2 separate regions of the Homo sapiens genome follow, and region 1 is linked to region 2. The links come from fine-mapping of genetic effects on gene expression. A gene starts in region 2. The other region holds a variant in brackets. All regions are shown on one strand. Distances are from middle to middle.

Region 1 (5,369 bases), 30 kb after region 2:
TTTCCTACCCTCTGATTTATAAAACAAATTCCATGCTTGGTCTTCTCTCAACAAAACCCTTGCTCTTGAATTTCCTCCTTTCCAGGCTATTAGTTAGATATGGAATAAAACAACTTGCTTTTGAGAGTCAAAACTAAGGCTTGTCGGATTTGTTCCCTTACACTGCAGAGGGAAAAGGAAGTACTGAGAGGGAAAATACGTTGGGTAATATTGCAAAGCAAACTGGCTTTATACATGGCTAGATCCAGGTGCTTACATAATGTCATCAAGGATCCACATCTTTTTAATTCTCAGCTCTTATTTTTTGTTGGTTGACTTCATTCTCAGGAAGATTTTCTCCCTTTAGAGTGAGAATGAATTCTTGGCTTCTATTTCCAGCAGAGTAACTATTTCTCTTAATTCCATAAAGAATGTCAGAACTGACTCTTCTTGGACTGTTATGGGTCTCGTGCCATCTCTGAACCAACTATTGTGGCCAAGTATGGAGTTTTCTGCCTGGCCAGGCCTGAGTCGTGTGTCTACTGCTGGACCAGGGGTGGGGTAGCCCCACTCACTGTCCTCCACTGTGGAAACCCAGCTGAGCCCCTGAGGTGTTAAGGAACTCCTCCTCTCTTCAACAACGTTGACATTCCTTCCTTTCTCTCCTGGCTATGTCTTTCCTTCCAGTGAGCTGGGAGTTGTGCTGTAGAAGGTGAGAGGTGAGTGGGAGGGTTCCACTAAATTACATGCCTTTTAGAGTATAGATTTAAGAGGGTGGATGTCCATCAATATCCTCAAGGAGGTGAGATGGAAACCTCCTGCAGAGCTTTACACCCCTTGCGAAGAGGAGGTACATAGGGACAGAGCTCCCATTGCAGCAGCCAGCCCCTCATCTCCAGGGAGGCTGATGGAGAGCAGGCTCTGTCTGAATGTGTTCAGCTTTCCATCCAACCTCCTTAAAGCTGTCGTTCTTCTGGGTTCTGGGGATGGGTGGGTCAACTTCTCTCATCCTCCTCAGCCTCTCCTTTAGCAACTGAACTATTTTAGTTAAACTTTTTGCAGCTCTCAGAGTCCATCTGACACTTTGGAGGTTAAAACATTCAAACCTTAGACAACAAGACATGAGAAATTTTCATCTGCACATCTGGGCTTAGGGGCAAGTGCAGCTGGCTTTCCCTTTGGGAAGAAAAGGCTTCCTCCTGGGTCTGCAGCAATCACAAGTACTTTGAAATGGGACTGTTTTCCTCACAGCTGCTTCCTGAAACAACAAAAGGAGCTGAGCTCAGTCAACCTCTGGGGCATCAGGCCAGCCCTGCGGGGCAGGATAAAAAGTCAGAGAAGGATCCTGGCTGCTTCTTCAGCTTGGGCCAAGGCAGAGTGGGATGGGGGATTTGCTGGTGACAAGTGCCTCTGCCCCTTCCCAATGCCACCTGTGTGAATGTTCCCTGCTTCATTTTGTTGGAATAGATTTTTGTGACTTCTCTCAGGCTCTGAGATGTTACTTGCCAAATGCTATTCACATAACCATTTTACATATTTCTGTTACTGTATGGTAGAACCAATCAACTAACCAATTAATCGACCAACCAACCAAAATCCTAATTCTGGAGACACATTGGATAAAGGATCCTAGAAATCTCCCTTCCTTTTTATAAGATAGTCTGCTCTGACCTCAGGGTCTGGGGCCACAGGAACAGCATTCCTGAACCTCGATGTCTGTGGAGATGCCAGGTCTTCTCCAGGGGCTGCACCTTGTCTTCTTCTTTTTCCCTTCCACTAAGACTTTTAGATGCCCCCATCCCTAGTCTGACCCCTAACCAGACATCTGTTCCCAGTGGGACCTTTTGTAGGAGCTGAGAGACCTGGCCAGCCTCCAGCATCAGCTCCGTACCCTCCGTTGTTGGCCAGGACCTGCTGTGGAGAACAAGTGCCCTTGAGGTCTCTCTGCTCTTAGTTTCCAGGGCAGTGAATGAGAAATGCCCTCTTACATACTCTGACAGTGCTGGGGAGAGAAAGCTAAATAGATAGATAGATAGATAGATAGATAGATAGATAGATAATGATGTTAGTCTTTGGCCAGGCTGGACCTGAGAGGAACTGTTTAGCATGAGCAGCTCTTCTTGCACCACCAGAGGCTTCACCAGCCCAGCAATTCCATTTCCTACTCACTCAGAGGAAGGGCTACTGGCTGCAGTCTCTTGCCACTGTCTGGCTCTGTGCTGTAAAATGGCCACTGGGAGGCTTCTCCTGGGTCTGTTTTCCCCTGGCCCCAGCACAGGCCCTTCTGAAATTAATCTATGGAGAATGTATTTCTCCATCTCCACTGTGGCTGTGGCCCTTTCCCTACAGTCTACTCAGCCCCACATGAGTTGGGGGTAGTGGGAGGCTGGGCTCTGGGGAAGGGACCCAGGGAGATATGAGCAGGTGCTTGCAGGGAAGGTCAGCTTTCTCCAGCTCCTTTCTCATGG[T/C]AGACACTCAATTACAGGGCCTCCCAGGTGCTGGATAGCTCTGTGCTGGCAGAATGCTACTTCTCACACCCCTCCGCACAGCAGAGATGATGAGGGCTGGGCCTGATTTTCTCCCTGCACTCTGATATAATAAAGTTGTTGTCACTAGGACCTATTAAATCAGGCACTCATGGTAGTAAATGTGGAGATCAGGCAGCTTGGAAATCCTCAGGCACATGTGCATGTGGATGCGTGTGTGTGTCATGAAGACACAGGATAAAGTCTGTTGTCTGTGGCCCTGGGGGATTGAGGCAGTGATCACCAGAGCTGGCTTTATCTTTGCGTTCATGCGTCTTCTACCCACTCAGCTCACATTTCGTTATACCATTCAGCAGTTGGCAACCTGAGGGGTTCCTAGGGAGGGAGATGTAGGCTAGTCCATCTTCTCCTCCATGGATCAACATAGGCCAGACCCAGCTACAGGAGGCTGGACCACAACCAGCATGAAATTTTTGCTGAGTTTAGACAGAAGGTCACTACGTCACTGAGGTATCTCATTGAATACTTGATTAGATAGAGAAGGAGATGATGGAGAAGAAAGAAAGATGACAGGAGAGGATAAGGGGGTGGCCATGACAACAGAGGAAGAGAGAGGACTCAGAGGTTGTCCCCAAGGCTTAGACTCTAAATAATTAAGAGACAGCCCTGGGCTCAGTATCCAGGTTAGATCTGTGTAGGATCCCTGGGGCACTGAAGTTGAGGATGTAACTAGTGGCTTGAAGGTGGAGTTGAGAGGTTCAGGGTGCCTGGTGTGGATTGTGGGGATGAAGGTTACAACCAGGACCTTTTATGGACTGTTCACAGGACTCCACATCCAGGCAAAGGCCAGAGTATTGATTCTTAGATGAAATGCTGTTACACAGCATGGGGACTTCACTTTTTTGAGACTGAAGAACTTTGAGGGGAAATAAAATCTCTGAAGAGAAGCTAGGTTCCATCTACAGAGGTAGCATGGCTTAGTGCCTCTCATCCATTCTGTTGAAACAGCTCTTGTCAGTGACCTCTATGTTGCTAAATTCATTGATCTCAGATCACCACATACTTTGCCTCTCTGCAACATTTGTTTCAGTGGAAACACTTTCTTCACTGGTTTCCAGGACATGATTTGTCCTCCTCTTACCTCATTAGCCACAGCTCAGTCCCCTTGGCTGGCTTTGACTGTCACCTGATCTCTAAACATTGGCATACTGCAATCTTTGTCTTTGGGCCTCTTCTCCATGTAGGCTCACTCCTTAGTATGAATCTCAGGTTTTTGAATAGTGTCTAATGAATCCCAAGTTTCTGACTCCAGCCTGAATATTTTTCCTGAATTCTAGGCTTAAATATCAAACTACCTACCCAATGTTTGTATGTGGATGACTAATAGCCATCTAAACTTAACACACCCCATACCATTCTCTTGATTTCCATGGCCCCAAACTTGTTCCTTTGCTGGTTCTCCCAGTCTCAGCAAATGGCAGTGTAGTTTTCCCATTTGCTCAGGTCAAAATAAAAAACTTGGAGTCATCATTAACTCCCCCTGATCCATGAGCAGGAATGGTTGGATTTATCTCTAAAAGAAATCCATACATGCAATAAACCCATAATTAGGTATCTCACCATGTTCACTACAGCTACCATCTGGTACAAGTTAATGGCATCTTTGTCTGGATCATCATAAGGGCCTCCTTACTGGTTTTTCTGCCCTAACTCTTGCTCCCTTAGAATTTATTGTTCACTTGGTAGACGGAGCGATCCCTATAAAAACTTAAATCAATCATGCCACTCCTCTGCTCAAAGTCTTCCAATGGATTCTGGTTTCAGAATAAAAGCCAAAGATCTTATAAGATCTCAGGGGACCCTTGAGACCCCCAGTGATTTTGTCCTCACTTGTCTATATGACCTCACCTCCTGCCTGTCCTGCCCAAGTCACACTGGCTTCTCAGTATAGCGTGACAAACTTGCTTCTGCCCAGGGCCTTTTTGCTATTCCCCTGCTTGAAATGCCATGCCTCCAAATAGCCACATGGCTCTCCCAGACCTCACTTCCTTCAGGTCTCTAATCAAATGTCTTATTAGACATTATTGACCAGCATATTTAAAATCGGTTTTCTTCCTCACCTTTGGAACTTTGTTTTTCCTTCATCCTGTCTTATGTTTCATACCACTTATTATCGTCTGATGTATTGTGTATTTACTTGTTTGTTTGTTACCTGTCTCTTCTCACTAGAATGCAAACTCCACAAGAGCAGAGATTTTATTATTATTATTATTATTATACTTTAAGTTTTAGGGTACATGTGCACAATGTGCAGGTTAGGTACATATGTATACATGTGCCATGCTGGTGTGCTGCACCCATTAACTCGTCATTTAGCATTAGGTATATCTCCTAATGCTATCCCTCCCCCCACTCCCCACCCCACAACAGTCCCCAGAGTGTGATGTTCCCCTTCCTGTGTCCATGTGTTGTCATTGTTCAATTCCCACCTATGCGCGAGAACATGCGGTGTTTGGTTTTTTGTCCTTGCGATAGTTTACTGAGAATGATGATTTCCAATTTCATCCATGTCCCTACAAAGGACATGAACTCATCATTTTTTATGGCTGCATAGTATTCCATGGTGTATATGTGCCACATTTTCTTAATCCAGTCTATCATTGTTGCACATTTGGGTTGGTTCCAAGTCTTTGCTATTGTGAATAGTGCTGCAATAAACATATGTGTGCATGTGTCAGAGCAGAGATTTTATCTGCTTTGTTCACTCTTCACCCCAGAATTTTGGAGAGTACCTTCATTTTGTAGATGCTCAATTAGTATTTTTTGAGTAAATGAAAGAATGGTGGTTGAGAGTGCAGGTCCTGGAAAAAGATTCCCTGAGTTCAAAGTCCAGATCTTCTCTTT
Region 2 (5,369 bases):
TTTCCAACCACCCAGTAGATTCCCCCGACGCAGGCGCAGAGACACTCGGTCCCCAGGGTCCAAGGGCAGTAGCACAGAGCTGGTGGCTGCCTCCCGGGTCACGTCAGGATCATTGGCAAAGGCTGAGATGACAGGCCACGTGTTCAGCATCAGGCTCACCTGGGGAGGGGAGCCCAGTTAGCCCCCATTCCCCAGCCCTTAGCTCAGGACCCCCCACTTTCCCAGGAGCTTCCTCTTGGGAAGCTGGGTTTTAATGGGCTCTCCCGGGAGGGCTGAGGGGCGGCCAGCATTGGACTCTGCACATCCTCCACACTCAATGCAAGGCAGGCCCATTCCTCCCCTGGTCCTGGCCTCCAGGACACAGGTCAATGGAGAGTCCACCCGGAGGTCAGCTGGGCTCCCCTTCTTCCCCCTCCCCACCCTCCTGAGCCGGGGATGGGGGCCAGTGCTGAGGTCACCTGGACAGTTTGGCGGTTGTACACCTTCACCACATGGAACCGGAAGCTGTAGACACCCCGGACAGGGGCTACGAAGGAGCCAGAGGCCCGGTCAAAGCCACCGCCCTCGTTCACCAGGACCTGGGGGAAGCAGAGCCTGCTGAGTGGGGCTCAGGAAATGCCCATGGCTCAGGGGTACCATGGGGACTAGGGGCAGGGGCAGTGAGTAATGAATAGAAGGAGTGGCAAGTAGGAGTGAATAGGAGTGAACAGATTCAAAAGAAATGGTGAGAAGGGGCAAGGAGAGGGCTGCGTATGGGTGGAGGGAGGGGAAACCGTCGGTGGGGTGGTGGGGCAATAGGCCAGATTAGTGAAAGATGTAGGAAGCTGTTTTCTTAAAGCCTCAGAGACAGCAAAGTGGGCTTGGACAGTTGCTTCCAGGTCCTTGCAGGGTCTTTCCAGGTCCCCTGGACAGGGGTAGGGGGATTACCTGGTCGAAGTAGATGGCCCCACTGGTGCCATTGCCGGTTTCCCCTGCTGGCTCATGGTGGTGGCTTCGGACCGCAGCAAATGCCACTCGCCCAGGGGGTGCCTCTCCCAGGGCTGCTCCCCCGGGCCCCCCTGCAGCAGCTCGGCCAGGCTCACAGACCACCAGGCACTCCCCCTCCAGCAGGACGGGCTCTGACCCCTCCTGGGCCCACCCGGCCCCCAGGGCCAGAAGCACCAGAACCAAGGGCAGCCCGGGACTGTGTAGGGGACCTGGTAGCCAGTGTGGCTTGGCTCCCAACATGGCTGAGGGGCTCTGCAACCCACAAGTGCCCCGGTCTTCTGCCCCTCTTCTGTTTCCGCTCCTCTCCCTGGATTCTCACCGCCGGCACCCTGATCGTCTGCCCTCTCTAGGCTCGCTGAACCCCCTCTCCATACCTGTGTCCCAGCTCTGTCCTGCCTCCCACTCTTACTCCTGCTGTCACTGCAGTTCCCTCCTCCTTGGCAGAGCATGCAGTGACAGCAGTTGGGCTTTGGGAGAGAAAGGAGGGATGAAGCCGCCTGCCCACTGGACGGGAGGGCTGCAGCCAGAGCTTCAGGGCAGCCCTGCTGGATGGGACAGCACTGAGGGCTGGACCTGGGGGGATGGAGAACATGGTATGTGTGTGTGACGGGTGTGACAGAATGTGTGAGTGTGTGCATATGCCAGAGGCAGCCCCTCAACCCCTTCCTCCTACTCTTCCTCTCTTCAAAATCCCCCACAAATCAACAGCCCTTCTTCGTGGCATCTTTCCGTTTGTTGGAAGAAAGGGGTACTCCACCACGGGTACCCTCCGCCTCCCGCCTCCCGCCTACCCCCTCCGCCACGATTGCTTTGGTGGAAAGTGCTTGGGCCTAGAGCACCAGTGGGCCAGTCACGCTGCCTCTTTGGTCGGCCACATCTTTATTCGCGGGAAACAACTTTCAACGCATGGTTCCCCTTTCCGAGAAGTAACTGCGCAGAATGCGCGAGGACCCTGAGGGCCGGGAGACAGACGGGAGGGCTGGTGAGAAGCGCAAGGGGCGAGCCCTGGAGCCGCCGAGGGGACTAGGCCGAGCGGGCCCGTCGGGGCCTCTGGGCGCGGCGGCGGGGTTGGGAGGAGGGCGCGCAGCCGGGAGGAGCTGGGCTGACTCCGCCCCAGGCCAGGAAGTGACTCAAGAAACAGTTTGCGTGCGATGTGGACAAGAGAGGTCCCCGCTGGGTGAGGAACCCGGGAAGGCCCGCCCAGATTCGGGCCCCCTGCCCTTGTCCCCTGGGCTGGGGGCGCGGGCAAAGCGGGGGCCTGGCGGGCGCTGAGAGGACCTGAAGCCGGCGCGGGCGGCGGAGGCGGTAGGCGCGCCCCTCCACCGCGCCCGGGAGCGGGGAGCGGGGGCCGCGGTGCGGAGTAGGCCCGGCCCGGGGTGGCTGCCCCAGTCCGCGGTGGGCGGGCCCGGCCCGGCCCGGCCCCTGGGCCCTGGGCGGTGCTCCTGGCCCGACGGAGAGGGGCAGCGGACGGCTGGGGGAGGGGTGGGAGTGGCTTGAACCTTGGAAATGGCAGACCAGGGCCCCCAGAGGACAGCCTAGTTCAATCCCCTGCTGAGGATTCGTCCTTAAGAAGCTTCAGAGTGCCCCAGGAGACTCCTTCTGGCCTCCAGGCCGAGCTGGAGCCCCCCCACCCTTCTTGCTCCGGACTGTGGTCATCCTTTTCCAAAGCCCAGACGCCCACTCTCGATAGACAGCCTTGTTTACCGGGACTTCCTCTCCGGAGAGGCCTGCGTGACATACACCCTCCCTACCTCCAGTGGACTCAGATGCTTGTCACCTCCTGGGGCTGTTTACCAGAGCCTTAACTAGGTGCGACCTGTTGATAGCTGGTGTAGTCCCAGGAACCAGGATTTGGATGGAGGGTACAATGAGGCTCTGAGCTGCCTTCTCCCCTTCCAGGGCTGGGGGCAGCAGCCATGCCTACCTGGGGGGCCCGCCCCGCGTCCCCAGATCGCTTTGCGGTGTCTGCGGAGGCTGAGAACAAGGTTCGGGAACAGCAGCCCCATGTGGAGCGCATCTTCAGCGTGGGGGTGAGCGTCCTTCCGAAGGACTGTCCGGACAACCCCCACATCTGGCTGCAGCTGGAGGGCCCCAAGGAAAACGCCAGCAGAGCCAAGGTGAACGCCTTCTCTCCCCCATCCCTCCAGGCACCAAGGACGCTTTCCCCCAGGGCGGAGGAGAGCAGGGCCGAGGAGAGCAGGGAAGAGGAGGGGCCTGGGGAGGATCTCCACTTCTTGGTTGTCTCACTGGCAACCTCAGTGCCCCTGAGTTTTGAGGGACTTTCCAACTCTATATTTGTTTTCAGTTTCAGCTTAATTTCTTCTGTGATGGCCCAGGCTGGCAAAAATCATTCTGTGCTCTTTGGGAGAATAGAGATATCTGGCTGAACAAGTTGGCCCCACCAAGGAATGCACTGTGGGGTGGGAGGCTGGGCCACATTGCTTCCTTTGGGATTAGGCTGGGGTTCCAGGATGGCTCAATCATGTACCAGCTTTGTGATGGGAGTCTCAGTTTCCTTATCTCTAAAATGGGAATAACATCATGTGGATACTCCAGACATCCTGGAGCTCAGGAGCGAGCAAGGAGCCAGGAGGGGTGATCTGGGCCAGTTAGTTTACTTTTCCTGACCTTCCCTTCCTCCCAACCAGGAGTACCTGAAGGGCCTCTGCAGCCCAGAACTGCAGGATGAAATCCACTACCCGCCCAAACTGCACTGCATCTTTCTGGGAGCCCAGGGCTTCTTCCTTGACTGCCTGGCCTGGAGCACGTCAGCCCATCTGGTGCCCAGGGCGCCAGGCTCACTGATGATCAGTGGCCTGACTGAAGCCTTTGTCATGGCTCAGAGCCGGGTAGAAGAGCTGGCAGAGCGGCTGAGCTGGGACTTCACGCCAGGACCATCTTCCGGAGCCTCTCAGTGTACTGGAGTGCTGAGAGACTTCTCTGCCCTGCTGCAGTCCCCGGGGGATGCCCATAGAGAGGCTCTGTTGCAGTTGCCCCTGGCTGTCCAGGAGGAGCTGCTGAGTCTGGTGCAGGAGGCGTCTAGTGGGCAGGGGCCAGGAGCACTGGCTTCTTGGGAGGGGCGGAGCTCAGCCTTGCTGGGTGCTCAGTGCCAAGGAGTGAGAGCTCCCCCTAGTGACGGCAGGGAGTCCCTGGACACTGGATCTATGGGACCCGGAGATTGCAGGGGAGCAAGGGGAGACACTTACGCTGTGGAGAAGGAGGGAGGGAAACAGGGTGGTCCCAGGGAGATGGATTGGGGGTGGAAGGAGTTGCCTGGGGAAGAGGCGTGGGAGAGAGAAGTGGCCCTCAGGCCACAGTCAGTGGGTGGAGGGGCAAGGGAGTCAGCACCCCTGAAAGGGAAGGCCCTGGGGAAGGAGGAGATAGCTCTGGGAGGAGGAGGGTTCTGTGTCCACCGTGAGCCTCCCGGTGCCCATGGCTCCTGTCACAGGGCAGCTCAGTCCCGAGGAGCCTCCCTCCTCCAGCGGCTCCACAATGGGAATGCCTCTCCTCCGAGGGTGCCCAGCCCTCCACCTGCACCGGAACCCCCATGGCACTGTGGAGACCGGGGTGACTGCGGAGACCGGGGAGACGTGGGGGACAGGGGAGACAAGCAGCAGGGCATGGCACGGGGTCGGGGGCCTCAATGGAAACGAGGCGCCCGAGGGGGCAACTTGGTGACTGGCACACAGCGTTTCAAGGAGGCCCTGCAGGATCCTTTCACCCTGTGCCTTGCCAATGTGCCTGGCCAGCCAGACCTCCGCCATATTGTCATTGACGGCAGCAACGTGGCCATGGTGTGAGTACCTGGTGGGGCTAAGGGCCTAGGAGAGGGAGGATATGTCCTGAGGGGCTGGCATTGTAGCCAGGGTGCCAAGCCCCTCCTCTGGCCGACCCCCTCCCACTACAGGCATGGCCTCCAGCACTACTTCTCCAGCCGGGGCATTGCCATTGCTGTGCAGTACTTCTGGGACCGTGGTCACCGTGACATAACTGTCTTTGTGCCTCAGTGGCGCTTCAGTAAGGATGCCAAAGTCAGAGGTGAGTTGGGCCTGGTCTTCAGTGTCCCAGGATAGGCTCTGTTTCCACTTTGAGGAGAACCCTATTATGTTCTTTTTCAATAGAGAGTCACTTCCTGCAAAAGCTGTATTCCCTCAGCCTGCTCTCCCTCACACCCTCACGAGTCATGGATGGCAAGAGGATCTCCTCCTATGATGACAGGTACTTGCTCCTCTCCTGGCCCCAGGCTTGATATTGAAGGAGCCCTATGGAAGACTGAGGGAGAGAGAAAAGCTCCTGGTGGTTTACGCTGTTTCTAAGCCTTGGTGGTGGGTAAGGGGCCAGTTATTCCTCTGTGTGCCTTATGATTGGGTAGGTAAACCTGC

What was found. PIP is the estimated chance that this variant, and not a neighbour inherited with it, causes the effect. A credible set is the group of variants that fine-mapping cannot tell apart.
Region 1: its variant is the best candidate, but not a certain one, in a credible set for the expression of KHNYN in whole blood (TOPMed, PIP 0.74).

The regions. Positions count from the first base shown.
Region 1 is chr14:24,457,665-24,463,033 of GRCh38, forward strand. All of the region lies in intron 2 of LOC101927045 (a long non-coding RNA gene), which reads left to right. Among named protein-coding and RNA genes, the nearest start is that of SDR39U1, 18 kb to the left of the region's middle. The variant T/C (reference allele first, on the strand shown) is at 2,448.
Region 2 is chr14:24,427,828-24,433,196 of GRCh38, forward strand. KHNYN (KH and NYN domain containing) reads left to right here and starts at 2,127. Exons shown (of 8, transcript NM_015299.3): 1 at 2,127-2,292; 2 at 2,887-3,104; 3 at 3,636-4,783; 4 at 4,895-5,025; 5 at 5,109-5,205. The coding sequence starts at 2,904. CBLN3 (cerebellin 3 precursor) reads right to left here and starts at 1,841. Exons shown (of 3, transcript NM_001039771.3): 1 at 928-1,841; 2 at 459-578; 3 at 1-159. The coding sequence starts at 1,227. RefSeq lists a silencer at 1,964-2,503 and enhancers at 2,534-2,713, 2,858-3,421, 3,274-3,383, 3,422-3,983, 3,984-4,545.